Regions from separate parts of the Homo sapiens genome. Here all the other regions are reported to be linked to region 5. Evidence: microRNA targets listed by miRTarBase, many of them from high-throughput screens and not tested one by one. Region 5 holds a microRNA gene; each other region holds the end of a gene's coding sequence.

Region 1 (5,896 bases), not on the chromosome of region 5:
AGCTGGCTAAACCTAAATTTAAAATAAAATATCTATTAAAGTTTTTATTCCTTACCACCTGTCTTTCAGCTTTGCTGCAAGATAACATCGCTGATGCTGTAGCTTGTGCAAAGAGGGTTGTCCGTGATCCACAAGGCATTAGAGCATGGTATGTTTTAAGTGTTAAAAGGGAAAACTATCTTACTCTACTGTTGATATATACAATGAGAGCAGACTTTTAAAGACCAAAGTATGCTAATGACACCTCAAAATTGCAGCTTTTGGCTTATGCTAAATGATGTATTACCTACATCCTTGAAGAAACAATCTACTTTAACTGATCCAGAATCTTACTCTTTTACTCCTCAATTTATTTTAGGGGATTTCTAGAGTTTTAAGATGCTTCACACTCTATCAGTTCCTTGTCATATCTTGAAATTCTTTTTAGAATAAGTAAGTGTGGGCCGGGCACAGTGGCTCACGCCTGTAATCCCAGCACTTTGGGAGACCGAGGCAGATGGATCACCTGAGGTCAGGAGTTCGAGACCAGCCTGCCTAACATGGCAAAACCCCATCTCCACTAAAAATACAAAAAATTAGCTGGGTGTGGTGGCAGGTGCCTGTAATCCCAGCCACTCGGGAGGCTGAGGCAGGAGACTTGCTTGAACCCGGGAGGTGGAGGTTGCAGAGGATTGCGCCATTGTACTTCAGCCTGGGCGACAGAGTGAGACTCTGTCTCAAATAAATACATAAAAAATAAATGTGGAATTCACTTTGCAGTTGCTGCTGTACAACGCACATTACTCAATCTTTATGTTCGGCATTCTATGCTCTACTGAGAAATTTGGGTAGGAGTGAAGTATTTTGTATACATATCTTCATTTAATAAATAGCAATAGCTGGGTCTATCTTACTATTTTATCTATTGATAAAATATTTTGTTTCCCCAAGGAGTGCGAAGTATGTATATTACAATGAAGATATGTTTTAACCTTTCACCATTTGCTTCATCTTTTTCTACAGGGTGGCATGGAGAAATCGTTGTCAAAACAGAGATGTCCGTCAGTATGTTCAAGGTTGTGGAGTGTAACTCCAGAATTTTCCTTCTTCAGCTCATTTTGTCTCTCTCACATTAAGGGAGTAGGAATTAAGTGAAAGGTCACACTACCATTATTTCCCCTTCAAACAAATAATATTTTTACAGAAGCAGGAGCAAAATATGGCCTTTCTTCTAAGAGATATAATGTTCACTAATGTGGTTATTTTACATTAAGCCTACAACATTTTTCAGTTTGCAAATAGAACTAATACTGGTGAAAATTTACCTAAAACCTTGGTTATCAAATACATCTCCAGTACATTCCGTTCTTTTTTTTTTTGAGACAGTCTCGCTCTGTCGCCCAGGCTGGAGTGCAGTGGCGCAATCTCGGCTCACTGCAACCTCCACCTCCCGGGTTCACGCCATTCTCCTGCCTCAGCCTCCCGAGTAGCTGGGATTACGGGCGCCCGCCACCACGCCCGGCTAATTTTTTGTATTTTTAGTAGAGACAGGGTTTCACCGTGTTAGCCAGGATGGTCTCGATCTCCTGACCTTGTGATCCACCCACCTCGGCCTCCCAAAGTGCTGGGATTACAGGCGTGAGCCACTGCGCCCGGCCACATTCAGTTCTTATCAAAGAAATAACCCAGACTTAATCTTGAATGATACGATTATGCCCAATATTAAGTAAAAAATATAAGAAAAGGTTATCTTAAATAGATCTTAGGCAAAATACCAGCTGATGAAGGCATCTGATGCCTTCATCTGTTCAGTCATCTCCAAAAACAGTAAAAATAACCACTTTTTGTTGGGCAATATGAAATTTTTAAAGGAGTAGAATACCAAATGATAGAAACAGACTGCCTGAATTGAGAATTTTGATTTCTTAAAGTGTGTTTCTTTCTAAATTGCTGTTCCTTAATTTGATTAATTTAATTCATGTATTATGATTAAATCTGAGGCAGATGAGCTTACAAGTATTGAAATAATTACTAATTAATCACAAATGTGAAGTTATGCATGATGTAAAAAATACAAACATTCTAATTAAAGGCTTTGCAACACATGCCTTGTCTGTTTTTATTTAGACTCCTATAGTGTCTCTGAAGAAAAGAATACAGATATTTGAAAAAATATGATTTGGTGCTCTTAATATCTCTTATATCGTCACTTACCTCACTTAAATAGTCAGATATTGCTGGAGAAAAATTCACAAGCATGCTGACAGGTCTCACTTTAAATTCATAACCATAAATCTCAAATGAGCCCTCAAGTCTGCCTGACCATTTTAGTTACTTCTCTACAATCCTTCCATTTTTATGTCCCTAGTCTCCAAAATGACTGTTACTATTTTACTTTTCCTCTTCTCTCTTCAAAGCCTCAAGACACACATTCAGCCTCCTCCTCTGCCCCCTTATCCTCCACCCTCCTCTGCTCTCAGCAGATAACCTGGCCTCATATTACACTTCTAAAACAAAAGCAACTTCATACCAAGCTTTCCCTTCTACATCCCAAAGCAGCAGTCATACCTTCCCACAGGCCCATCCTTCCTTCCTTCCCTCCTATTATCAGGATGAAGAGCCTCTGCTCCTGCCAACAGCACTGACTCCACATGCAGTTTCCCTCCCATCCCTCTCACTACTCCAAGTCAGGCTGTTTCCTGCATCCCTAGTTTGTCCCTTTTAGCTGGATCACCTCCATCATTCTACAGTCTGCCCTAGTAACCTTCCATCTTACAACAAATACTCCACTGACCCTACATAATCCTCCAACTGCAACTCCATTCTCTGCTCCCTTTACAGCAAGACTTCTGGGGAAGTATGTCTGTACTTACCAACTCCATGACCTCACCTCCCAGTGTCTTTTCAACCCTCTCTAATCTGGCTTCTATCCTCACCCAGCTGAAACTGCTCCTCCAGGATTTCTCCCATGATTCCTCAGTGCTAATTCCAGTGATCATCTTGTTCATCTCAGCAGCATTTGACAAAGTGAACCGCTTCATACTTTTAGCAGTTTTTTAATCCCTTGGCTTTTCCTTATTTACATCCTACCTCACTGACTGTTCTTTCTCAGTCCTTCTTGCTCACTCTTTCTCTGCTATTTAATTTCTAAATGTGAGAGTGCCTCAGGGCTCAAGTCTATAATAATTTTATATACTACATATTTTACTTATTTGTCTCTTCTCACCAAAATATAACTTCCAAAATGACAGAGGTTTTTCCACTTTTTAAAAAAACATTGAAATAAACTCAATCTTTTAAAAAATATAAAAGTACTGTACAAAGATCTTTTATTTTTCAGAACTGTTTTGAGAGTAAATAGCCAACATGATACCCAATGGCCCTGATTACATCAGTGTGTAATTCCTATAAAGACATTCTCCTGCATAAAACCTCAAAACAATTATCCAAATTAGGAAATTAACACTGATACATTACTACCACCTAGTCATCAGATTCCACTCAATTTCATCGATTGTCCCAATAAGACCTTCATAACAAAAGCATCTAATTCAGAATCATATTGTATTTGGTTGTCATGTTTTTTAAGTCTCTTTGAATCTGGATTATTTCCTCAGTTGTTTCTTTCTGGACTTTTTATGACCTTGCCACTTTTGAAGACCACAGACTAGTTATGTTATAGAATGTACCTAAGGTTTTTCTGGTGTTCTCTCGATTCCATTAAGTTATGCATCTTTGGTAGGAATACCACAGAAGTGATGTTCTCACTGCATCCTTTCAGGTGGCATTCAGTTTTTGCAGTTTTGATTTGCCCCATTATTGATGATGTTCACTTGGATCACTTGATTAAGGTGAGGCCTGCAAGCCATCTTCACTGTAAAGTATTTGGGGAGGAGGTGCCTTGAGACTACTGCTCATCAAATTTTCAGTTTGTTTGTTTATTTATTTAGAGGCAGGATTTCACTCTGTCGCCTAGGCTGGAGTGCAGTGGCGCGATCTCAGCTCACTGCAACCTCTGCCTCCCAGGCTTATGCAATCCTCCCGCGTCAGCCTCCTGAGTAGCTGGGACTACTCGCACGCGTTACCATGCCTGGCTAATTTTTGTATTTTTAGTAGAGATGGGGTTTTGCCATGTTGCCCAGGCTTGTCTGGAACTCCTGAGCTCAAGCAATCTGCCTGCCTTGGCCTCCCAGGTGCTGGATTACAGGTGTGAACCACCGTGCCTGGTCATGCATTTATTTATTATATCAGTATGGACCCATGGCTTCTATTTTATTCAAATCATAAGGAGTTATAGTCCATTACTATTATTTATTTTGATGTTCACACTGTCCTCGATTTGGCCAGTGAGCCCCTGCAAGTTGTCTTCTGTGCCATTTCGACATATTTCCATCATTCTTCAAGCACTTTCTTGTTTTCTGGCACAAGATATTCTAAGGCTCACCTTGTTCCTTCCTTGCTTCCAAAAATGGAAAAGGCATTTCTCCAAGGAGCCCTGATTCCTCAAAGTGCATAATAGTATTAAAAAAACAGGATCTGGGCACTAGGGTATCACTGTTTCCAGGCCCTATCAGTGAACAGAGCTGGAAGATATATGTATTTACACTATATTTATCTCTATATCTATCTATTTATATTGAAAATCATGAATCCACACCAATATCTCCAATTCTAATCTCACACCACAGGATTCACTCTAGTTTTCTTCTTTCGCATGTTTTAACTCTCTTCTCTGACAGTAAGTAACTTAGCATCCATTATACTCATTATCCTTAAAATGTATCCTTAGTACATTTACGTATTTGATGGGTTTGCCTGTATGTAACCAATTCCCCAACTCTGCCCAAGTGCTCTCCACTCAGGCTCTGACATCCCTCAGTGGGTTGCTTCCTTCCCCAACACCTGGACACCCTCCTTACCATGATACATCTCTGATTTTATAATATGCTGAACCACTGTCCTGATAGGAAGAATAGAAATTTTTCACTCATTCCACTTCTGTATTCTAAACACCTAGAAGAGTGACTGGAACATGGTACATGCTCAATCAATATCAGTTGATCGAATAAATCTCTTGCTGATTATTTAGTATGTTCCCTCCAAACTGAACATTCTAAGCTTTTTGTTTTTGAGACGGAGTCTCGCTCTGTCACCCAGGCTGGACTGCAGTGGCGCGATCTCAGCTCACTGCAACGTCCGCCTCCTGGGTTCAAGCGATTCTCCTGCCTCAGCCTCCCGAGTAGTTGGGACTACAGGTACTCGCCACCACGCCTAGCTCATTTTTGTATTTTTAGTAGAGAGGGGGTTTCACCATGTCAGGAGATCGATCTCCTGACCTCGTAATCCGCCCGCCTTGGCCTCCCAAAGTGCTGGGATTACAGGCGCGAGCCACCGCGCCCAGCCTTTTTTTTTTTTTTTTTTTTTTTTTAATTAACTCTTCAAGGCCACATGATTCCAGTACAACCGCTTGCGGGGTTCCAAGCCACTTCTTGGCTATGTAAATGCAGCACATAGACTAGCCATGTGAGGGCAGCAGAGGGCCACTACATAGGTGCAACCTTTGGCTTCAAAATTCTTGGACCATTCTGACGTGATTAAACTAAAAACGAATGAGTTTATGCATATCGAGATACCCTGAGGTGTACAAAGGATGAGTCAAGGTAGCGGAGAGAGAGTTGAAGAGTGACAGCTGAGAAACAGAGATAGGACATGTCCAAGAAGTGCCAGGATAACCCAACAACACAGGCTGATTGAGGAAACTGCCAGAGATTAGACAAAGTAGACTGAAGAGGGAAAGCAATGTTTGTTGGAGATTTTGCTTTAGTTTTTGATAAATATTTCTTAGTCATACCAATTGTTTTAAATATAATTACGCCCCCAAACCAAATTTCTACTCTTATTCTGGCAACAGAATAAA
Region 2 (5,896 bases), not on the chromosome of region 5:
ATAAACATGACTGTACTCAACAAACCAAGTGTAAAGACAAATTCTAACAGACTGAATTTCTTTTTGGACCAGCCATATGTTCTTTAGAAAAGATACACCTAAAACAAGGATATGGGAAGTTGAGGGCAAAGGGATAGAAAAGGATATACAAGGTAGGCATGAAACTGAAGAAAGCTGATGGAGCTGCATTAGTCGCGCAAAACAGACATTAAGGTATAAAAGCATTTTAAGAATCATGGGGTCACTATGTTTTTATAAAAGAAACAATCTATTAGGAAGATGTAATAGTTCAAAACCAGGCACATAATATGAGTCTTGTAGAACAGAATCACAGTGAGAAACTGACGAAACCTTAAGTGTACTTGGAAGTGCTAACACGTTCTTTATGATAGAAAACATTTGAAGAGGCCGGGTGCGGTGGCTCCCACCTGTAATCCCAGCACTTTGGGAGGCCAAGACAGGCGGATCACGAGGTCAGGAGTGCGAGGCAAGCCTGGGCAACATAGTGAAACTGTCTACAAAAAATACGAAAATTAGCCAGCCTGGGCCGGGCACAGTGGATCACACGTAATTCCAGCACTTTGGGAGGCCAAGACAGGCAGGTCACGAGGTCAGGAGATTGAGATCATCCTGGCTAATATGGTGTGTAACCCCTTCTCTACTAAAAATACAAAAAATTGGCCAGGCACGGTGGCTCACGCCTGTAATCCCAGCACTTTGGGAGGCCAAGGCAGGCGGATCACGAGGTCAGGAGTTCGAGACCAGCCTGACCAGCGTGGTGACACCCCGTCTCTACTAAAAATACAAAAAATTAGCTGGATGTGGTGGTGTGTACCTGTAATCCCAGCTACTAAGGAGGCTGAGGCAGGAGAATCGCTTGAACCCAGGAGGCGGAGGTTGCGGTGAGCCAAGATCACACCATTGCGCTCCAGCCTGGGCAACAGAGCGAGACTCTGTCTCAAAAAAAAAAAAAAAAAAAAGCCAGGCATGGCGGCACACGCCTGTAGATCCAGCTAATCAGGAGGCTGAGGCAGGAGAATTGCTTGAACCTGGGAGGCAGAGGTTGCAGTGAGCCGAGATTGGGTGACTTCACTCCAGCCTCGACAACAGAGTGAGACTCTGTCTCAAAAAAAAAAAAAAAAAGGCTGGGCACAGTGGCTCACACCTGTAATCCCAGCACTTTGGGACGCCGAGGTGGGTGGATCACCTGAGTTCACGAGTTTGCGACCAGCCTGGCCAACATGGTGAAACCCCGTGTCTACAAAAAATTAGCCGGGCGTGGTGGCGGGTGCCTGTAATCCCAGCTACTCAGGAGGCTGAGGCAGGAGAATTACTTGAACCTAGGAGGCAGAGGTTGCAGTGAGCCGAGATTGCACCATTGCACTCCAGTCTGGGCAATAAGAGCAAAACTCCATTTCAAAAACAAACAAAAAAAAGACTCAACCCAGAATTCTTTTTTTTTTTTTTTTTGAGATGGAGTCTCGCTCTGTTGCCCAGGCTGGAGTGCAGTGGTGTGATCTCAGCTCACTGCAAGCTCCGCCTCCCGTCAACCCAGAATTCTATATCCAGTGCAAACACACTTAAAGAACGAAGGCAAAATACAGACATCCTCAAATGAAACAAACCTAAGATATATATTTCTTGCCAGCAGACTTGCCTGAAAAGAAATGCCAAAGGAAACTCTTGGTAGAAGGGAAATGATACCAGAGGGAAAGCGGGAACTTTGGGAATTAAATGATAGTAATAGAGATTGCACAATTATTTTATCTTTAAAATATGGCTGGAGGCGGCTGGGCGCGGTGGCTCACGTCTGTAATCCCAGCACTTTGGGAGGCTGAGGTGGGCGGATCCCAAGGGCAGGAGATGGAGACCATCCTGGCTAACATGTTGAAACCCCATCTCTACTAAAAATACAAAAAAATTAGCTGGGCGTGGTGGTGGGCTCCTGTAATCCCAGCTACTTGGGAGACTGAGGCAGGAGAATGGCATGAACCTGGGAGGCAGAGCTTGCAGTGAGCCGAGATCACGCCACTGCACTCCAGCCTGGGCGACAGAGCAAGACTCTGTCTCAAAAAAAAAAAAAAAAAAAGAAAAAAAATGTGGCTGGAGGCCAGGTGCAGTGTAATCCTAGCACTTTGGGAGGCTGAGGTGGACAGACCACTTGAGCTCAGGAGTTTGAGACCAACATGGCGAAATACTGTCTCTACTAAAGATACAAAAAATGACCGGGTGCGGTGGCTCACGCCAGTACTTTGGGAGGCTGAGGCGGTTGGGATCACAAGGTCAGGAGTTTGAGACCAGCCTGGACAGCATGGTGAAACCCCATCTCTACTAAAAATACAAAAAACTAGCCGGGCATGCTGGTGGGTGCCTGTAGTACCAGCTACTCCGGAGGCTGAGGCAGGAGAATTGCTTGAACCTGGCAGGCGGAGGTTGCAGTGAGCCGAGATCACACCACTGCACTCCAGCCTGGGCAACAGAGTGAGATTCGGGAAAAAAAAAAAAAAAGCAAAAGCAAACAAACAAAACTCAATAGTAAGAAAACAAACAGGCCAGGCACGGTGGCTCATGCCTGTAGTCCCAACACTTTGGAAGGCTGAGGCAGGTGGATCACTTGAGGTCAGGAGTTGAAGACCAGTGTGGCCAACATGGTGAAACCCCCTCTCCACTAAATATACAAAAATCAGCCAGTGTGGTGGCACATGCCTGTAATCCCAGCTACACAGGAGGCTGAGGGAGTTGAATCGCTTGAACCTGGGCGGCGGAAGTTGCAGTGAGCTGAAATCATGCCACTGCACCCCAGCCTGGGCAACAGAGCATGACTCTCTCAAAAAGAAAGAAAAGAGAAGAAAAAAGAAAAGAGAAGAAAAAAGAAAACAACCCAATATTTTAAAGTGTGCAAAATATATAAACAGACATTTCATCAAAGATGCTATATAGATGGCAACTAAGCACTTGGGGAAAAAATGCTTAACATCATCAGACATTAAGGAAACGCAAGGAAAACCACTATTAGATATGTCTACATACCTATTAGAATGGCTAAAATAAACTTTTTAAAAAACTAAGCTGGGGCTGGGCGTGGTGGCTCACCCCTGTAATCCCAGCACTTTGGGAGGCTGAGGCGGGTGGATCACTTGAGCTCAGGAGTTGGAGACCAGCCTGGCCACCCAACAAGGTGAAACCCCATCTCTACTAAAAACATAAAAATTAGCTGGGTGTGGTGGTGGGTGCCTGTCAGCCCAGCTACTCAGGAGGCTGAGGCACGAGAATCACTTGAACCCAGGAGGTAGAGGTTGCTGTGAGCCAAGATCACGCCATTGCACTCCAGCCTGGGCAACAAGAGCAAAATTCTGTCTCAAAAACAAATAAACAAGAAAAGGTTTTAAAAATTGATAAACCACTAGCAAGAAAGAGAGAGAGGACACATCAGGCTTGAGAGAAGTGACATCATCATAGACTGTGCAGACATTAAAAGGCATAGGCATATTAGGAACTAGATATTACTAAGGCAGTAAACCAGATCACTAGCAAATTCGTTGAAAAACACAATTCATCAACTATTGGTTGATAATACTGATACGCATCTTCTGTGTGCCAGGGCCTTGAGGCCCTGCTCCAGGCAGAAACTCGGCAGTGGTTGGGAAGGCATCAGATGTCAGATGGCACAAGAGGACTCAGAGCTGAGGGATAATGGGAAAGAACACAGAGGAATCCAGCCATTTCCACAGCGTCCAGCTCTGCTGTGGGAGGCTGGGAACAGCCCAGCACTACCACCCTGGACTGGGAGGACAAGACCACAAAATGCAGCTTCCCTGAACCTCCTCTTGGTGATGGGGTTGATGTGGTCGAGGTAGAGGTGAGTATGTCTGGAGCCTCAAGCAACTGCCCATACCTGCTGGGACCAGGCCGAGGTGCCCAGGGAGTAAGAGGCAGCATCCTGGAAGAGCACAGATGAAAGAGGCCCTGAGAAGTGTTGGTTGGCCAGGTGCTGTGGCTCACACCTGTAATCCCAACACTTTGGGAGGCTGAGGCGGGAGGATCACTTGAGCCCAAGAGTTCAAGACCAGCCTGGGCAACATAGTGAGACTCATCTCTACAAAAAATAAATAATAGAAAGAAAAATGTGAGTTGGCCAGGCATGGTGGCTCATGCCTGTAGTCCCAGCTACTCAGGAGGCTGAGGTGGGAGGATCACTTAAGGCCAGGAGTTCAAGACAAGCTTGGGCAACACAGTGAGACCCTGTCTACAAAAAATAATAATTAGCCAGACGTGGCGATGCATGCCCAGGCTCCCAGCTACTTGGGAGGCTGAGGCAGGAGGATCGCTTGAGCCTGGGAGGTCAAAACTGCAGTGAGCCGGACTGCAACACTGCACTCCAGCCTGGGTGACAGTGTGAGACCCTGTCTCAAAAAAGAAAAAAGAAAAGAAAACTGTGCTCTTAAGAGCCAGTTCTCCACTCCTCTACCTCAGGAGCCACCCCAGAACCCATCCACTTTGAGGACACGAGATCCCAGCCCACTCAGCCCTGGGAGTCCAAAGACATTTTAAACAGAGCCTCTCTTCACATTTATTAATTCCTGGGAGGAATGAGGGAGGCTTCTCCAGCCCCCCAGAGACCCCGGCCTTGTGCTGCAACAGGAGGGGAGGGAGCCAGTCCAGAATCCCCGGCACTTCTGAGGACACCAACAGCACCCTGGGCCCGCGGCTGCATCAGCTTTCTAGACAACGGGAGAAAAGAGAAATGGTGGAGGAGGGGAAATCCTATGCCCTCCTCCTCGCGGAAATCAAGGCCGACCTCCCTGACGCCCCCCCGGAAGGAAGCGCGTGGTCGGCTGCCAGCCGAGACCCCCATCTGCGCCTCCAGCTGCAGGGCCTTTGCTGGGCGGTTCCTCGCCCGCAATTCCCCCACGAGCCCTGGGGAGACCCAGCGCTAACCAGGGGTGCCCAAGGGAGGAGCCGGGAGAGGCCCTCCTGGAGGTGGGCACAGCCCAGGCAAACATCAGCAGACGGAACCAGCACCCGGGACCCAGGGAAACGTCACCTGCCACCAGGAGCTCCACAGGGTCGCTGAGCTCCGATTCGAAGGTGTGGGGCACCCAGGAGCGGTAGCGGCACCTGTAGTTGCCGGCGTGCTGGGGCCCCACGAAGATCAGCTCGAGGTTCGCCGCGGCCCCGGGGGTGCGGACCGTCTTCACGGCCTTCGTCTCGCCCTCGCGCAGCAGCTCGAAGGTGACGTCGGGGATGGGTCCCTCGCAGCGCAGGACGGCATCTCGGCCCGCCAGGACCGCCCCACTCCACGTCGCCCGGAGCTGAGGCCTGGGAGGGGGTCCTGGGCGGAGCGGGCGGGTGGTCGGGCCAGGCCACGCCCCAGGCCACGCCCCAGGCCACACCCCAGGCCACACCCCAGGCCGCGCCCGCGCCTGCGCCTCAGCCCCGGCTTCATCTTCCCTGTCTTGTTCCTGGGCGCAGAGGGCTCCTCCGGCGCCGCCGAGCTGCGCCCGCTGCCTTCACACCCCGGACATCCGCGCCACACGTGAGTGTCCCCGCACCCCTCCCCCAGGACCGTGGAAGTCCCAGATTCGGGCCTGCTCTGGGGCTTCTGGGGTCCCCAGCCTCGGTCACTCTGACGGGTGAAGGGAAGAAGAAATGATGGAGAAAACGGTGCTCCTTCATGGAGGGACCAAAAAAGGACATACAATCTATGTCAATAGATGAGGGTTTTCCCTCCATAAGTTTAACTTTAAAAGTGTATTTAAGGTGCCGGGCGCAGTGGCTCACACCTGTAATCTCAGCACTTTGAGAGGCCGAGGCAGGCGGATTGCCTGAGCTCAGGAGTTCCAGACCAGCCTGGGTAACACGGTGAAACCCCGTCTCTACTAAAATACAAAAAATT
Region 3 (5,748 bases), not on the chromosome of region 5:
AGTGTTTGTGTAGTTGTCAACTCTGAGCATCAGAACAGGGAGAGATTGAAAACATGCACACTTGGCTGGGCACGGTGCTCACGGCTGTGATCCCAGCACTTTGGGAGGCCGAGGCGGGCAGATCACCTGAGGACAGGAGTTCGAGACCATCCTGGCCAACATGGTAAAGCCCCATCCCTACTAAAAATACAAAAATTAACTGGGCGTGGTGGCAGGTGCCTGTAATCCCAGCTACTCAGGAGGTTGAGGCAGGAGAATGGCTTGAACCCAGGAGGCGGAGGTTGCAGTGAGCCAAGACCGGACCACTGCACTCCAGCCTGGGCGACAGAGCGAGACTCTGTCTCAAAAAAAAAAAAAAAAAGAAAAGAAAAAAAGAAAACATGCACACTGAGGCTGGGCGTGATGGCTCACGGCTGTAATCTCAGCACTTTGGGAGGCCATGACAGGTGGATGGCTTGGAGCTCAGCAGTTCGAGACCAGTCTGGGCAACGTGGTGAAAACTTCTCTTTACGAAAAACACAAAAATTAGCCGGGTGTTGGTTTTGCTTGCCTGTAGTCCCACCTACTTGGGAGGCTGAGGCTGGAGAATTGCTCGAGCCCGGGAAGCAGAGGTTGCAGTGAGCTGAGATTGTGCCACTGCACTCCAACCTGGGTGACAGAGTAAGACCCTGTCTCAAAACAAAAAACAAAAAACTTGCACACTCAGACTCCAACCCTGTACATTTGGGCTTAGTGTTCTATGGGCTGTGGTGACTTTGAAAGAAAAACAATGGTACAGCCTCCATGGTAGGGACTTTGGCAGTCTCCATGAACATGACAGAAGCAAATACTCTTTGATCTAGCAATTCTGCTTCTAGTTTATTCTGTAGACTTTTGTGTGTGTGACAGTGTGCAACACTTTTTGAGAGTAAAGGATTGGAAGGAAGCTACCTGTCCATCAGTGGGGCCTAGATAAACATTAATAAATATCACCCCCATATGGTAGACCAGGGCATTGTAGGATGTTCATTAGCACCTTCCTTGGTGTCTACCCATAGATGACAGTATCCTCTCTCCCCCTCCAGTTGTGACAATCAAAAATGTCTCCAGACTGCCAAATGTCCCCTGGGGGGCTCAGTCATCCGTGGTTGAGAGCCACTGTCTTTTCTTTTTTTTTTTGAGACAGAGTCTCGCTCTGTCGCCCAGGCTGGAGTGCAGTGGTGCGATCTCCGCTCACTGCAAACTCTGCCTCCCGGGTTCAAGCGATTCTCCTGCCTCAGCCTCCTGAGTAGCTGGGACAACAGGCGCATGCCCCCATGCCCAGCTAATTTTTGTATTTTTAGTAGAGATGGGATTTCTCTATGTTGGCCAGGCTGGTCTCAAACTCCTGACCTCATGATCTGCCTGCCTCAGCCTCCCAAAGTGCTGGGATTACAGGTATGAACCACTGCTCCTGGCCATGAGAGCCGCTGTCTTATGTACTCATATGGAGTTATTGCTATACATTTTTTTTTCTTTTTTGAGGCAGGGTCTCACTCTGTCCCCCAGGCTGGAGTGCAGTGGTGTGATCACAGCTCACTGCAGCCTTGAACTGGGCTCAAGGGATCCTCCTGCCTTAGCCTCCCAAGTAGCTGAGATCATAGGTGTACACCACCACACCCACCTATTTTTTTATTTTAATTAATTTTTTGTAGAGGTGGGTTATTGCTATGTCACCTAGGTTTGTCTTAAACTCCTGGGCTCAAGTGATCCTCCCTACTTGACCTCCCAAAATATGGGGATTATAGGTGTGACCCACTGCACCTTGGCCCTCTCTAGGATATTTCAAGGGGAAAAAAGAAAAGCACAGAACAGCATGAATATATTATGCTGCCATTTAAATAAAAAAAAAAAGGAGGGCCAGGTATGGTGGTTCATGTCTATAGTCCCATCTACTCGGGAGGCTGAGGCAGGAGGATTGCTTGAGGCCAGGAGTTTGGGACCAGCCTTGGTGACATAGTAAGACCTTGTCCCTTAAGAAAAAAGGAAAGAAGGAATATATACACACATGTACATATATATATGCTTTTTGTTCTTGATTTTATTTTACATAATTGCATGTATAAACTTTCTGATGGATTGATTTTTCCTTTCTGTCCCGATTATCTAGCCTCTGATGTGCTCAAGAGCTGGATCTGCTGACTTATCAAAAAAGTGACATTTGGCCAGGCACGGTGGCTCACACCTGAATTCCCAGCACTTTGGGAGGCTGGGGTGTGAGGATCACTTGAGCCCAGGAGTTTGAGACCAGCTTAGGCAACAAAGTAAGACCTGGTCTCTACAAAAAATAATTAGCTGGGCATGGTGGTGCACATCAGTAGTACCAGCTACTTGGGAGGCTGAGGTGGGAGGATTGCTTGAGCCCAGGGGTTCATAGCTGCAATGAGCTATGATAGTGCCACTGTACTCCAGCCTAGGTGACAGAGTGAGACCCTGTGTCCAAAAAAAAAAAAAAAAAAAAGGCCAGCCACAGTGGCTCACACCTGTAATCCCAGCACTTTGAGAGGCCAAGGCAGGTGAATCACTTGAGGTCAGGAGTTCGAGACCTCGAGACCAGCCTGGCCAACATGGTGAAACCCCGTCTTTACTAAAAATACAAAAATTAGTCAGGTATGGTGGCACACACATGTAGTCCCAGCTACTTGGGAGGCTCAGGCATGAGAATTGCTTGAACTCAAGAGGCGGAAGTTGCAGTGAGCAGAGATGGTGCCACTATACTTTGGCTTGGGCAATAGAGCAAGACTATCTCAAAAAAAAGAGAGACATTTAGTGTTTAGGAAAGATAACCAAGAAACTGGCAATTTTGGTTACCTGTTGGAAGGGCAACAAAGGTGGCCAGGGGTGGGAGAGAAATTCATCAGTATACCTGCTTCTATACTCTTTGAGAATAAATTCTAATAATTCTAATGGGCACTCAGGTTTGAGAAACACTGCTCTAACGCAGCAATAATTACCCTGTCTGATCATTTCTTTTTTTCGGCAATCTGGAAGCAGAGTCCATTCTAGATTCTGCAAATTCACCTGATGGTTTCTTTCTTTCTTTTTTTTTTTTTTTTTAGATGAAGTCTCACTCTGTCGCCCAGGCTGGAGTGCAATGGCACGATCTAGGCTCACTGCAACCTCTGCCTCCTAGGTTCAAGGAATTCTCCTGTCTCGGCCTCCTGAGCAGCTGGGATTATAGGCATGCACCACCTCGCCTGGCTAATTTTTTTGTATTTTTGTAGAGATGGGGTTTCACCGTGTTGGCCAAGCTGGTCTCGAACTCCGGACCTCAAGTGACCCACCTGCCTCGGCCTCCCAAAGTGCTGGGATAGCAGGCGTGAGCCACTGTGCCCAGCCTCACCTAATGGTTTCTTAGCAAACTTCAGTAGAATGTTTAGAACGCGGCCCTGATAAACTTGAGTGCTGGTAGGAGGTGCTACCTCGCTCAATCTGTGAGCAACCAGCCCTGTGCCCTGGATGCTTGGCGGGTGGAGAGAAAGACAGTGTTATGTGGGCAAGCCTCCAACTCACCAGTTGCAGTAGAGCATCTGGCTCTCTGTCTGCTGCTATAGCCCTGTGAGTCAGCCAGACGTGTGGTCCCCAAGCCAGCTTCCCACCTAGCACCCTTGTTCTGCTACAGCTCCCCCACCTGCCCTCCTGCATTGCCTAGGATCCCACGCCCCGCTTTCAGTCTGCTCTGGGACATCTGTCTTCTTCTTTGCAGGGGACTAAGTATATGACTTAATGAATCCTAAAAGGAAAAAAAGATGTCAGGAAAAAAAAGTGCACACAAGAAATGTTGCAACATCTCATCCTTAGCAACTTTGTTTGGTTAGTACTGCATAACTCACAGCAGATTCCAAGGCACCTGCCTTGAACATTGCTACATGCTCTAGGCATTATCAGGAACGCAGCCAGGGTGCCTGCAAAGTTGTCTCCAGTTTCTGGGTAAGAGGACCATCATCCATATTGTCTGTGGCTTTGTGTCTGAGTTGGGCTACTGAGCCTGTGACTTCAGACCCCTTGTCTGCCTGATGGATACATTCTGTATAATACGTTACCATCACAATTTCATGAATGTAACTAATGAAGATCTAGCCCTTCCATGCCTCCTGCTGAACTATGTCACCTGTGATAATAAAACCTCTACACATAGCATTTTATACAAAGCAAGTCAAACAGCAATGATAGTGGCAAGTGATGTATTTGGCTTAAAGAAGCTTGTGTTACTGAAGTTAACGCAGAAGTCTGGCCTCCGTTTGTGGGATTATTAAATATATATCCTACGGGATCAGAGTCATCTATTAGAAACAGTGATAGCCCTGGGTATAAATAAACATTTCTTTAGAGTTTGGCGTCAGTTTTTCAATGTCCATCCTCAAATCAGACAGTCTGTTTGAGGGGTCAGTTTTCAGGGTGCATCTGCACCGAGAGGCTTGAGGCAGCAATGACCCCTGGGCTGCAGTTCGGTTGCAGGCGCTGGTGGCGGGCAGTCCAGGTTGGAGGGTGGAGATGGGCCAAGGTCACAGATGCTGCAGGGCTTCCTGTCCTTGCTCTGTGTAACCGTCATCGCGGTGGGTGTTTGCCCACTGTCCAAAGGACTCCTGGATGTGCACGTTTCTCTGTGTGTTGGCCAGGCGCTTCTTATCTCGGGAGAAGAAGCTAAACCTTTGGAAGGGAAAGCAAACACAGAAATGAGAGCTGACCCTTTGCTGTGCAAGTCACGTTTTTTGCAATGCCGGAGACATATAGCAGCAAACTTAGAAGGGAGCAAATCAATTCAAGGTGTGAAAGACAAAGTTGGGGGTGCAGGTCAAAGTTATTCCAAGAAAGCAGCAGGGTATTCTGCGTGTCATTTGGACACGGTACCTTGGAGGTCACGCGGTATGGGCAAGGCATGCATGCTGATGTGATGTGTGAGGTGTCTTCCACGTTAGCCGCTATGGAGGATTTATCCCGTTACCAGTGGAAATCAAAAGCTGCTGAAACAAATCTTGGGTTTCTTTAATTACCCTAATGACGCAGAGAAAGGAATACTTGAAAACCGTGTGGAATATAAGAGGATTCTGTTGTAAACGAATGAGTATTTCTAATTTAAATAGTTCTGTATTTGTTTAATGTCAGTCAGGAAACTGTGGCCCAGATTTCATGGACATTACTGCTTAGATGAGGCTAAAGGAAGTACTTAAGAAAAATGAACAATAAAACATATACTATGGGCTGAGCGCGATGGGTCACGCCTGTAACCCCAGCACTTTGGGAGGTCGAGGCAGGCAGATCACTTGAGGTCAGGAGTTCGAGACCAGCCTGGCCAACGTGGTGAAACCCCGTCTCTACTAAAAATACAAAAATTATCCAGGTGTGGTGGCACACGCCTGTAATCCCAGCTACTTAGGAGGCTGAGGCAGGAGAATCGCTTGAATCTGGGAGGCGGAGGTTCCAGTGAGCCGAGATCACGCCACTGCACTCCAGCCTGGGCAAGAGAACAAGACTCTGTCTAAAAAAATAAAATAAATATATATATATAAGTAAAACATGGTACGCATGGTTCTCTGATATAAAATTAGGGAAACATCCATTTGCACTTTCAAAAATAGATCTAATGGTGAAAGCCTTTAGGCCGTATCACTGTAACCAGCTACAGAGCCACAGTTAGTCTGGCCTCAGACTTTAACTGAGGTAGACAGAGGTCTTTTTAAAACAGCTGTGACTGTTGCATATTGATCAGAGAGAGCCATCAGGAACTTT
Region 4 (5,855 bases), not on the chromosome of region 5:
GAAGGGAAAGGACTATAACCCCTTACATTTAAACAGTGCTTTAGAGTTTACAGGCACTTCTTATAGATTATCTTTTTTTAAATGTTTCCCCACCTTTTCATGGTATCACATAGGTTATCTTTTTTGATCATCATGTCATCCCTGAGTAGTAAGTAGGGTGGGTGGTATTAGCCCTATTTCACAGAAAAAGAAAATGAGCCCCCAAAAAGGAAAGGTTAAATCACTTGTGCAAGGTCCCTTTTCTAATGAGATATGAAACTAGCACTGGAAGTCAGGTCTTCTGAGTCCTGATTCAGTGCTCATTATAATATTAGAAGCTTTCTCAATGTAACTTAATTTTGGTCTAATAAATGCCAATTTATGTTCATTTTCCAGAATCAAGTTCTTTTATTTCTCAAAGACATTTTTGACTTTGAGAAGGTGCGCTATTCAAGTACAGAGACTTTAGCTGAAGACCTCATGCAGTTACTCATTCGCCGCACTGAGCTTTTAATGGCCTATCTTGAAGCAGATGCCCTGAGGCATACAAGTAGTTGTCTAAGCAGTCATGGTCATGTTATGTCCACTGGGCTACTGGAAGCCAAAGTACAATAAGTACCATAAGAATCATACAATTTGAGTGTGCTATGAAATATTTTAAGGTAACTATTGATTTTGTAACATATATTACAAAGTTAACAGAATTGATGCATGTGGATTCAGGGAGGAAAAAAAAATCTACTAAAAAATGAGCAACTGTACTGTATTTATACAGAAGTTCTGTCATTGAATTCCTGTGTAGTGTAGTCATAGTGGCTTTTTGCATTCATTAGGTAATAATTGAAGTCATGAAATGTATATTTTACAGAAATATCGCTTGAATTGAAGCCAATATTTGGGAGTTAATTGGTTTGTCTTCTTGAAGCTGTCATTCTCAAAAGCTCTGTTTTTATGCTTTGCACCTTTAAAATGTACACTTTAGCCAAGGTCTTTGTGGCCCACACATGCAAGAATATATTACTTCTAATGTCAATATATTTAACTTTGCCTAGAAACATATTTTTAATTATAAAGTTATTCATTTGTTTAATCAAGTTTAGGCAGTAATGATGTTTAATATGTACTGCATACATTATTGCTTGTGCATTTGCTTATGTATTTGAATCAAAGAAATTGTAATCACTGAATATTGTTATAGAACATTTAAATGGGCCACTTGCAGTGGCTCATGCCTGTAATACATTGGGAGGCTGAGGCAGGAGGACAGTTTGAGGCCAGGAGGTTGAGACTAGCCTGGACAACATAAGGAGATGCCTGTCTCTACAAAAACATAAAAATAAATTAGCTGGTATCAAGCAGAGTTCCATGGAAATATTAAAATTTTTTTAAAAAATAAAAATAGGCTGGGTGTGGTGGTTCATGCCTGTAATCCTAGCACTTTGGGAGGCCAAGGTGGGCGGATCACCTGAGGTCAGGTGTTCGAGACCAGCCTCCCCAATATGGTGAAACCCCGTCTCTACTAAAAATACAAAAATTAGCCAGGTGTGGTGGCGGGCGCCTGTAGTCCCAGCTACTCGGGAGGCTGACACAGGAGTATTGCTTGAACCCAGGAAGTGGAGGCTGCAGTGAGCCGAGATCGCACCACTGCACTCCAGCCTGGGCAACAAAGTGAGACTCTGTCTCAAAAAATAAATTAATTAAATTAAATTAATTAGTTGGGTGTGGTGGCATGTGTCTGTGGTCCCAGCTACTTGGGAGGCTGAGGTGGGAGGATCACTTGAGTCCAGAAGGTCAAGGCTGTCATGAGCTGTGATTGCATCACTGCACTCCAGCCTGGGCGACAGCAAGACCCTATCTCAGAAGTGAATAAATAAAACAAATACAGCATTTAAATGAATTGACATTGAGAAATTTACAATTTACAAATTTATATTAACTGTAGTTTCCAAAATATGTTACTGTTGGTCCTGTAAGTTACAAAGAGACTGAAGAACTTTCTTTTTATACATTAGAGCATTTTCCCCTGGAATGAGTATTGATTAAAAAGATAACATTTATTAATTAATAAAGGCAATTTAAAATTTAGTGTTATTTGAAGACTGTCAACATCTGAAGGTATGAAACTTGGTACAGTGAAATAATTTCTCCTTTCTCCTTCCTTTTAGTTATTCCCACAGAAAACTCAGCCCAGTGGGAATTTGTCATATTATGCCCATGTTTTAAAAATATTCATAGTTTGAATCTTATTGACATTTTAAAGAAGAGTTTTTTCCTCCCTGGAATGTAAAACAAAAATATTTTTTAATGATGTGGAAGTATATATTTCATGTTCATTATGATAAATCTACAAACAAATGAATTGTTTTTATGGGTGGAGTTCTTCTATAAGAGTATATTAAATGCTTTCAGAGTTGTATTAATTTTGTTTCTAAATAATATACCACTTATTTGGAGTGACTAACTCAGTATGTAAGTAGATGAGATTTGTTGATTTTGCCCCTAAAACGGGCTTTAGTCATTTTAGGAGTGAGTTGCACAAAAGGACCTAAAATGCATTGTTTTTTGCCTTCTTTTAAGAGATGGGGTCTCGCTCTATTGCCCAGGCTGGAGTGCAGTGTGCTATCATACATAGCTCACTGCAGTCTCCAACTCCTCATACCAGAGGCATGTGTCACCATGTCTTACTCCTAAAATGCATTTTTAAAAAGCGAATTTTTAGATTAAAGTGCCTAGTTTCTGATTAATAAATAGAAGATGAAAAAAGTGGGCGGGAAAAGCATAATCTTTTAAGATTTGTAATTTTCTGTATGTGCCACATTTATGTAAATTAACTATAAAATATGGAATTCAGGATCATGCTGTTTTGCATGTACTTTATAGGTTATATAGCATGAAACATACAAATTATCACTGTTCTTTAGTATATAGCTCCTTGCCTTTTCTTACATAGATGCTTAATTTAACAATTACCTATTTATAGTTCTTATTATTGACGGGAATATGATTAGAAGTACCAAAACTAAAAATTCCATTATGTACTGTTTACTTTTTATTTAATATTACATGTTTTTACCTTGTTGCGGTATCTTTGGCCTTCACACACACATGTGTGCGTGCACGTGCATTTCATTACCATGTAGACAAGACAGTTATTGCTTATAGTAATTTACCCATTTGAGGGCTAAGTGTTTTAAGCTGTGGTTTTATAAGCAAAGCTGTAAGTAAATGTAATTTATTTTAGAAAGATATTATTTGAAATCAATTTTGAAGAATTGCACTATTTGATAATGCTGCTACTACATGAGATAACTCTGGGGAATTAATTTTATGAGATAAGATGAATGGCTTTCTAGAAGGTGTTGCTTTTTGTTTTTTCTTTTTCTTTTTTACATTTCATCTTAGAAAAAGTTGCTTATATTCAGCAGGTTGGTTTGTCAAATTCAGTGTTTGAGTTTGTTTCTGGTCAGTTCAGTAGCTGCTACTTTAGCAAGATGTGGCCTTTCACAAAAGAGGTAAGAGTGACCAAATAGAATTTTAGGACAATAAGTATAGGAAATATCTCTTTATCGTAAGATAAGAAACTTGAACTTTTTAAAGGAAATGTCCTCTTGAAAAGAACATTTCTGACTGCATGCAGAAGGGTACTTAAGACATATATAACAGGCCAGGAGCAGTGGCTCACGCCTGTAATCCCAGCACTTTGGGAGGCCCAAGTGGGCAGATAACCTGAGGTCAGGAGTTTGAGACCAGCCTGACCAACATGGTGAAACCCCATCTCTACTAAAAATACAAAAATTAGCCAGGCATGGTGGCGCATGCCTGTAATCCCAGCTACTCGAGAGGCTGAGGCAGGAGAATCGCTTGAACCCGGGAGGCGGAGGTTGCAGTTAGCCGAGATCGTGCCATTGCACTCCAGCCTGGGCAACAAGAGTAAAACTCTGTCTCAAAAAAAAAAAAAAAAAAAAAAAAAAAGACATATGTAACGGTTTCCATTTGCCTTAAAATTGGGTTAAATAGCAAAAGCAATGTCTTTAAAAATGATTAGTTTAGAGCCTTTTAGGGTAAACCCTGTTTAAACACTTAATCATGGAATTGCCCTTGCCACCATGAGCTCTACCATCCACTTCCATATGTAAATTATAAGAGGGACTTCAATTAAGTCACTCCTGAGAAAATATCCTTTTTTCTAGAAGAAAGAAGATAAATTTTGAGGCAATTTACATTTGGTATTTCTTTTAATTTCATTTTTTGTATTTTAATTTCCCTACATTTTTGTTCAACTAAGAGTGCTTATTTCTTCTTGAAGGTTAACATTATGTTTATTAAGTATCAAAATGGAATTATCTTTTAAAAAAGAAGACAAGTTTTCCATACTGTCACAGTAAGCTCCAAAGAACTTTGTCTTTCTCATAAAGTAATATTCTTTATTTGCATCCATTTACTATGATTCCGTTAATTTGTTGAATTAAATGCCTTTATAAAAATATTTACAAATGTTTTCTTGCCTTAAAATGTAACATTTTCTACTTAAATTTAATTTCCAAGAGAGTGATTATTTGCATTACAAAGGAATTCTTAATAATTCCTGTAAGCCTAGGAAATAGGAATGCCAAAGTAACATTTAATGTACTTCTCTATAACTTTTCATAATCAGAAATTTTAAATTATGTTTATATAACCCATTTACTTTTATTTTAATGTGAATATATATTCAGAAATTATTTGATGTAAATTTCAAAATGATTATAGGAATTAAGCTGAATTCTAATTTTTTTGCTTAGATTTAGAAATATGTATGTGAAATTTAAGAATTTATATAATCTGTGATTAGTGGAAATAAGAACATCCCTACTTTGTTCCTAATGAGTATATTATGTTATTGTTTTGTTTAGTTTGTGAACAACCATGTATTAGCTTTACTTAGCTGATGTCAGTAAATGTTTCTGTCTCCTAAATGTAAGGACTGTACTCATTAATTTGTGTAAAAGTAAAACACTACAGTAGCAGAAAAAATTGCACTGGCTCTTTAGCCAAAATAAGCACTGTAACATGGATGTATTACTATTACTGCCAAATAAAAAAGTGATGGTACGTCTTGCTGATGTATTGAATATTTTAAACAATGTTAATATATAATTATGAAGTCACACTTGTCTCATCAGATCCTGTATGAGAATATTCAGTCTCCATAAGACCCATATATATGGCATAGAGAACAGGACAACTGCAGAAGCATTATAATCAAATATAAAACTTTATCATTAAAATAAAAAATAAAAGGCCGGGTGCGGTGGCTCATGCCTGTAATCCCAGCACTTTAGGAGGCCGAGGCGGGTGGATCATCTGAGGTCAGGAGTTCGAGACCAGCCTGGCCAACATGGTGAAACCCCGTCTCTACTAAAAATACAAAAATTATCTGGGCATGGTGGTGGGCACCTGTAATCCCAGCTACTTGGGAGGCTGAGGCAGGAGAATCGCTTGAACCTGGGAGGCAGAGGTCGCAGTGAGCCAAGAGTGCACCATTGCACTCCAGCCTGGGCAACAAGAGCGAAACTCTGTCTCAAAAAAATAAAAAATGAAAACAAAGATTAAAAATTTATTGTTTCTCCATGTACTGATATGGGGAAAAAGACAGTTTTGTGATGAATAAAGTGAAAATACTTGTATTTTAATTTAAGTGTTTGGATGATAATGCCATCAAGCATAATATAAACTTATATTGATATATTGATGTATATGCATCATTACTATTCATATATGACCTGAACCTCTCTTCTCATCAATTCTTCAAAAGGCTTCAGATATATGGCCGGGTGCAGTGGCTCATGCCTGTAATCCCAGCATGTTGGGAGGCCGAGCAAGGCAGATCACTTGAG
Region 5 (5,896 bases):
AGAGAGGGAGAGAGAGAGAGAGAGAGAGAGAGAGAGAGAGAGAGAGAGAGAGAGTGAGAGAGTACAAAGAGCACAAAAGAGAGCTGTAAGCTTTAAGTCTCAGAGGCCTGGTGACCATAAGCAAGATAGGAACCTTGTCTGGGAATCGGGTTATATATTTTACCTTCCTGTGTTAGGAAATGGGGCTTTCTGATGCATCTCTTCTTTTAATCCACACCAGGCGGTTTACTTCATAACTTCTTTTAAAGGAAATTTGTTGCCCACCTTAAATGGGAATTTAGGTTAATATCAAGAAGAGGAAGTATCTTCTATTTTATCTACTAGTGTTGCTAACACTGTACAACATGTATCTACTTAGAGTGGTTTTATTTTGCTTCGTGGCCGTATTTTTTTGCTTTATTACTGATTGTTTTAGTTTTGGTATCTGTTTTGGGGGTGGGTTCTTATATTTTCAGAGGTATTTGGAATTATTTGGAGGTTAATTTTTTTTTAATTGTAAAATGTATATAAACATAAAATTTACCATTTTAATCATTTTAAGTGTAAAATTCAGTGGAATTAAGTAAATCCACAGTGGTGTGCAATGATCACCACAATCCATCTCCAGAAATGATTCATTATCCCAAACTAAACCTCTGTAACCATTAAACACTGACTCCCCATTCCCAGCTCTTGGTAACCTCTATTCTACTTTCTGTCTCTCCTAGTTTGCCTATTCCAGGGACTGAATAGAATAAAATCATACAGTAGTATTCCTTTGTGACTGCTTTATTTTACCCAGCATATTGTCTTCAAGGTTAATCCATGTTATAGCATGTGTCAGAATTTTATTTCTAAGCTGGACATGTATGCACATGACTGTAGTCCCAGCTACTCAAGAGGCTGAGGCAGGAAGATCGCTTGAGTCCAAGAGTTAGATTCTAGCCTGAACAACATAAGGAAACCCAGTTTAAAAAGAAAATTATTTCCTTTTGTAGGGCAAATAACATTTCCTTGTATGCATATACCACAGTTTGCATATCACTTTATCTGTTGATGAACACTTGTATTGCTTCTACCTTTTGTCTATTATAAATAATGCTGCTTTGAACATGGGGGCACTATGTCCCTTTGAAATACTGATTTCAGTTCTTTTGGGTATATACCCAATACTGCAATTGCTGAAATATGGTAATTATATCTTTAATTTTTTGAAGAACCACCATAGTGTTTTCTGTGGTGACTGTGCCATTTTACTTTCCTACCAGCAATGCACGGGGTTATAATTTCTTCACTTGTCAACACTTGTTATTTTCTGTTTGTTTGCTTGTTGATAATATTGATTCTAATGGGTGTGAAGTCGTATCACATTGTGGTTTTGGTTGCATTTCCCTAATTAGTGATATTGAGCATTGTTTCACTTATTTATGAGGTAGAATTGATTTTAGAAATATTTTTGTTTGAGTTTTGATTTATTGGTGTGTAGCTGTAGACTTGGGTCATTTTGGACTACTGACACTGGTGGAGGTTCCTGAATGCTGGGAGACCTGGACATGTCCAGATTAAATGTCCCACACCATAATCTCCCTTTCTCTTGCTCCATGGCAAGTAATTTAGCTAATCCTTTAATTTATTCAGTGCACCTCCCTCTCTCTTTACAGTCTTTTGTTTAACTTGGCTCCCTAGCTCTTAAAATATAACTAGTTTGGGGTCTGTGGATCTCTTACTCCTACTTGCTTCCCCCTTTCTTCAGCCTCAGTATTGAAAGGAAAAAATAGATTCCTGGGAGGCCTGTGTCTCCAAATGAAAATTTTGAAAGAGACCCTCTTGACAAGAACTCTAGGAAATGTTGAGAAAGTCCAGGGCTGAGAAGGAAGAATAAGATATAACTAGGTTCTAAGCCAATTGCTCTCTTGGAAATGATTCCAGGCAAGGTAAATGATCTGTATAATCCCCAGGAATGGTGGAGAAAATGAGATTTTTGTCCTATGAATCCTGGCACTGCCTAAATGATCTATCTCTTTTGCTTGAATTCTCTGCATGTTTACCTTGTTCTCTCTGTTGTTTTGGTGTTAAAAGTTAAATAACTCTGAACCAAGGGACTAGGAATTTGGGGGCACAGAGGGTGGGGAGACCTTTAACACTGGTGGAACACAAATCATTTTTAATATGCCATTCCTAATGACTTGAAAATACATAGGAAAATGTTGGTGAGATTATTTGTTGCCGACTGAAGAGAAGAAGTCCTCAAAATCAGCACATGAAATATGCAGCAAGTAAGAGTATCCTCACTAAAGGATGGTTAGAGAATGGGAATGGAGTGGCAAACATACTAGAAATTCTTCATCGTATCTAAACTTCACGTATATATTTGGGTAGAGCCACCACCTTCAGCTGAGTGTAGTGCCCTACTCCAGAGGGCGTCACTCATGTAAACTAAAACATGATTGTAGCCTTTTGGAGTAGAGTAATACACATCACGTAACGCATATTTGGTGGCCATGGGTGTGAGTGTATACAGCCGCATGCACAGAGCTGCCCTCCCTTGTGTCCAAGCACCACCCTCCCCTTGCTGGGCTAACTCAATGGACTCCCATAGGCAGGTCTTGAAAGGCAAATCCTAGGGACTGAGGGCTCCCAGGAAAAATCACCCATGTAGGCTTTCCGGGGATTTATATACCCTTGTCCAAAGGAGGCATGCCCACACAGGTAAGAAAATTTGTAGTGAGGATGTGGCTTTTCCTCTTTTTATATTCAGAGCTTCTACTGCTACAGAGCCCAACTATTCATTTTGCCTTGAAAAACCTCCAACGTATTTTTCCTCACAACATTTCTTTTAGCTTCCAAGCCTTTTCATTTCCCAGTGGGCTCTTCAAATTCCCTCCTGCCTCAGAAGCATCCCTCTGCACCAAAAAGCTCTTGCTCTTTCAGGATTGAAGACAAGCCTTTCCTTAAGAGTTTGTGTGTTCTTCCTTACTTGGAAAAATACATTATTTCCAAAATTATCTATCTGTTGGTTAAAAAAAAAATATATATATATATAAAATATTTATGTATATATTTTTAAAAAATATTTATATGTATATTTTAAAAAATATTTATTGAAAATATGTGTATATCAGTCCTTTCTAAATTCAACATATCTATAAAAGGTTAAGAAGTTGCCTAGAATATTTGTTTTGTTAGTTTTCTTTGAATTATATTTAACATTTTATTTTTAAAATTATATGAAGGAATAAAAAGAAGTGAAGGTATTCATCTCAGATTATTGAGAATGATAACATATATATTTGTCTTTTCCCTTCCACTTCCCTTCAGTTGCTCCTTCTTAACCTAAGGTCTTCAGAAAGAAAACTTGAGAATCACAGACAAAAGATGGCCAGCGCCGGATCCCTGGAGAACATCTTCAGACTGGAGCAGTGACTAGGAAGCAGGTTGTACACACTACGGTGCTGGAAAAATGGAGGTGGAGTGGGGTTGGAGGGTAATCATCCTGGTGACCCCTTCCGGATTAATTCTCATAAAGCACCTTAAGTGGGCAAGTTGAAGTTTATGGAATTTTGTTGTCATCTCGAGTCAGTGACATGTCTCACTCCGTTCCAAATCTTGGCAAAAATTTAGATTGTAATCAAGAGGAAGGGTATTCTTCTCTTATATCACTAATACTACTACATTATCGCCTGTGTACAACCAGTGTCTACTGCTCATGGTATCTTCTTCCCTATTTCATGAGCTCTAAGAGTTTTCCTGGGCAGAAAGTCTCACCACCCTAGATGTGTGTCTGGGGCAGTGACAGTGGCACCACTGCAAATTGTTCTCAAATTTGTGCTTATTTTTGAGAAGGTGTGAGTTTGTGTGTGAGTATGTGTGTGTTGGTTTTTACAAATGAGTTAATTTAGTTAGTTGATTCGTTCATGTGCATATTGTGGTTGGGTTTGGGGGGACTTTTCAAATTGTTTTTGCTTAGTAATATTGTTTATCCAGACATTGGTAACTGTCTGATTTTGGTTTTGTTTTTGTTTTTTGTGATATTATTTTGTTTATAATTGTCCTTTCATTTCCAGTCTCTGTGCATTTATTTTTCAAAGTTGGTTCTTCCTTTTTAGGTTTATTTGTTTATTTTGTTTGCTTGTATTATTATTTTTAACTGACACATAATCATTGTACATATTTTGGGGGTACAGTGTGATTTTTTATTGTTTGCAATTCAGTGTTCATGGCACCTCTGCTTGTTGTTTCGTTGCATACTTGAAGTTTTTTTTTTTTTTTAAGTTAGAATTGTGGTTTGTGTTTCAGCAAATGTTTTATTCCTGTTTCGGGGGGAGGGGGCTGTCATGATTTAATTATTAGTTGTTGGTTCCAATCTGAGTTTTCTTCTTTGGTTTTGATTTGGTTTTAATTTATGCGTTTGGTTTGATTTGTACTGAGAGGTGCTTGGGAGTTGTTTTAGTTGTAGTTTCCTTTGTGTATTTAGACATGTTTGTTTCTTTCCTGCTGTTTTGCTATATCTTTCTTTGTTTTATTCTCTAGTGTATTTCTATTTGCTTTTCAGCTGACTTTTTGTGTGTATATGTGAGTGGGTGGGTGGGTGGATGGATGTGGGTGTGTATGCGTGCATTTCTGTGATTATTTTTGAATGATGTTGACTTCTTTAAAGTATTTTGTTATTTTCCATGTATTTTTAGTTTCAGTTTGTGTTTATTGTTTTATTTTGTGTGTGTGTGTGGGGGGGGGGGGTTCTTCATTTTCCTTGTGTTTTGGGATATTTAAATTTGTATGAATTTTGTTTTGTTGCTGTAGTTATTTTTTCCCCTTTAATTGTGTGGGGCTCAGAAAGTTTTGTCTTTCATATATATGTGCGCTTTATTGGGGATGTGTTTTTTTTTTTAAGTTGTGGGAGTTTGCTTGGATTTTAAATGTTTTGCCTCAGTATCTGTGTGTATGCTTACATGGTTTGGTATTTGCAACATGCTTTCTAATTGATAAGTTCATGTATTGATTCTGTTTGGAATTTGTTGTAGTTGATTTATTTATTTATTTTAATCCTGTTTGTTGAGCTTTTCTAATTTGGGATGATTGTTGATAGGGGTTTAAAAATATATTATTGGTTTACTTTTTAGTTTTTATTTATTTGTGCCCTGTTTTTCTGATTCATTACTTTTTAAAAAATCATTTATAGAAGTTTTGGTACATAAGGCTAAAATTTCTTTCTTTTGTTAGGGATAATTTGCATTATTTGTTGATTGATTTTTTTTTTTTAGCTTATATGGTTTTTTTGAATTGTGTGTATGAGCATGTGTTTGTTATTTTGAGATTTTTGTATTGTGATAGCTTTAGTTCTTAAAAAGCGTCGTTGATACATGACTGACATAAAGTTTGCGCTTTGACATATTCTGTTTATACACCCATGAAATCATCCCCTAAATCAAAATAAATAGGGAATATTATACATCCTCCCTGAAAGATTCCTCCTGCCTCTTTGTGATCCTCATTTTCGGTCTTCTGCACATAACCACAGAGCCATGCAGCCACTAATCTGCTTTTATTCACTATGGATTAGATTTTATTTTCCAGATTCTTATTTTTTATTTTTTGAGATGGAGTCTCTCTCTGTCACTCAGGCTGGAGTGTAGTGGCGTGATTTCGGCTCACTGTAAATTCTGCATCCCAGGTTCAAGCAATTCTCCTACCTCAGCCTCCCGAGTACCTGGGACTACAGGCGCACACCACCATGCTGAGCTAATTTTTGTATTCTTAGTAGAGACGAGATTTCACCATGTTGGCCAGGCTGGTCTCAAACTCCTGACCTCAACTGAACCTCCCACCTCAGCCTCCCAAAGCGCTGGAATTACAGGCATGAACCACGGTGCCTGGCCAAAATTTTTTATTAAAATGGAATCATACTGTATATACTGTT

What was found. The annotated mature microRNA hsa-miR-508-5p reads UACUCCAGAGGGCGUCACUCAUG and lies in region 5 at 2,389-2,411, shown strand. An mRNA with a match to its seed (bases 2 to 7 or 8) in the 3' UTR can be bound and repressed. Matches are read on the target gene's strand: a 7mer-m8 pairs with bases 2 to 8, a 7mer-A1 pairs with bases 2 to 7 and ends in A, and an 8mer does both.
Region 1: miRTarBase lists LYZ as a target of hsa-miR-508-5p. Seed matches in the 3' UTR shown: 7mer-m8 at 1,385-1,391.
Region 2: the mRNA of A1BG is a reported target of hsa-miR-508-5p. Seed matches in the 3' UTR shown: 7mer-m8 at 4,376-4,382 and 7mer-m8 at 3,325-3,331.
Region 3: the mRNA of RILPL1 is a reported target of hsa-miR-508-5p. Seed matches in the 3' UTR shown: 8mer at 2,423-2,430.
Region 4: miRTarBase lists MIGA1 as a target of hsa-miR-508-5p. Seed matches in the 3' UTR shown: 7mer-m8 at 2,584-2,590.

Annotation. Positions count from the first base shown.
Region 1 is chr12:69,352,151-69,358,046 of GRCh38, forward strand. It overlaps LYZ (lysozyme), which reads left to right. Exons shown (of 4, transcript NM_000239.3): 3 at 70-148; 4 at 1,003-2,084. The coding sequence ends at 1,069. Among named protein-coding and RNA genes, the nearest start is that of YEATS4, 4.6 kb to the right of the region's middle.
Region 2 is chr19:58,342,309-58,348,204 of GRCh38, forward strand. It overlaps A1BG (alpha-1-B glycoprotein), which reads right to left. Exons shown (of 8, transcript NM_130786.4): 7 at 5,045-5,332; 8 at 2,875-4,721. The coding sequence ends at 4,714. ZSCAN22 (zinc finger and SCAN domain containing 22) reads left to right here. Exons shown (of 3, transcript NM_181846.3): 3 at 1-24. Among named protein-coding and RNA genes, the nearest start is that of A1BG-AS1, 6.7 kb to the right of the region's middle. RefSeq lists enhancers at 4,486-4,986, 4,654-4,933, 4,987-5,487, 5,704-5,783 and a silencer at 5,184-5,513.
Region 3 is chr12:123,468,015-123,473,762 of GRCh38, forward strand. It overlaps RILPL1 (Rab interacting lysosomal protein like 1), which reads right to left. Exons shown (of 7, transcript NM_178314.5): 7 at 2,040-4,668. The coding sequence ends at 4,524. It also overlaps a transcript of SNRNP35 not described here. Among named protein-coding and RNA genes, the nearest start is that of SNRNP35, 13 kb to the left of the region's middle. RefSeq lists a silencer at 788-1,082.
Region 4 is chr1:77,874,471-77,880,325 of GRCh38, forward strand. MIGA1 (mitoguardin 1) reads left to right here. Exons shown (of 16, transcript NM_001416120.1): 16 at 376-5,070. The coding sequence ends at 594. Among named protein-coding and RNA genes, the nearest start is that of NEXN, 11 kb to the right of the region's middle.
Region 5 is chrX:147,233,495-147,239,390 of GRCh38, reverse strand. MIR508 (microRNA 508) reads left to right here and starts at 2,364; the gene lies at 2,364-2,478. The region is part of intron 2 of LOC105373347 (periphilin-1); the gene reads right to left.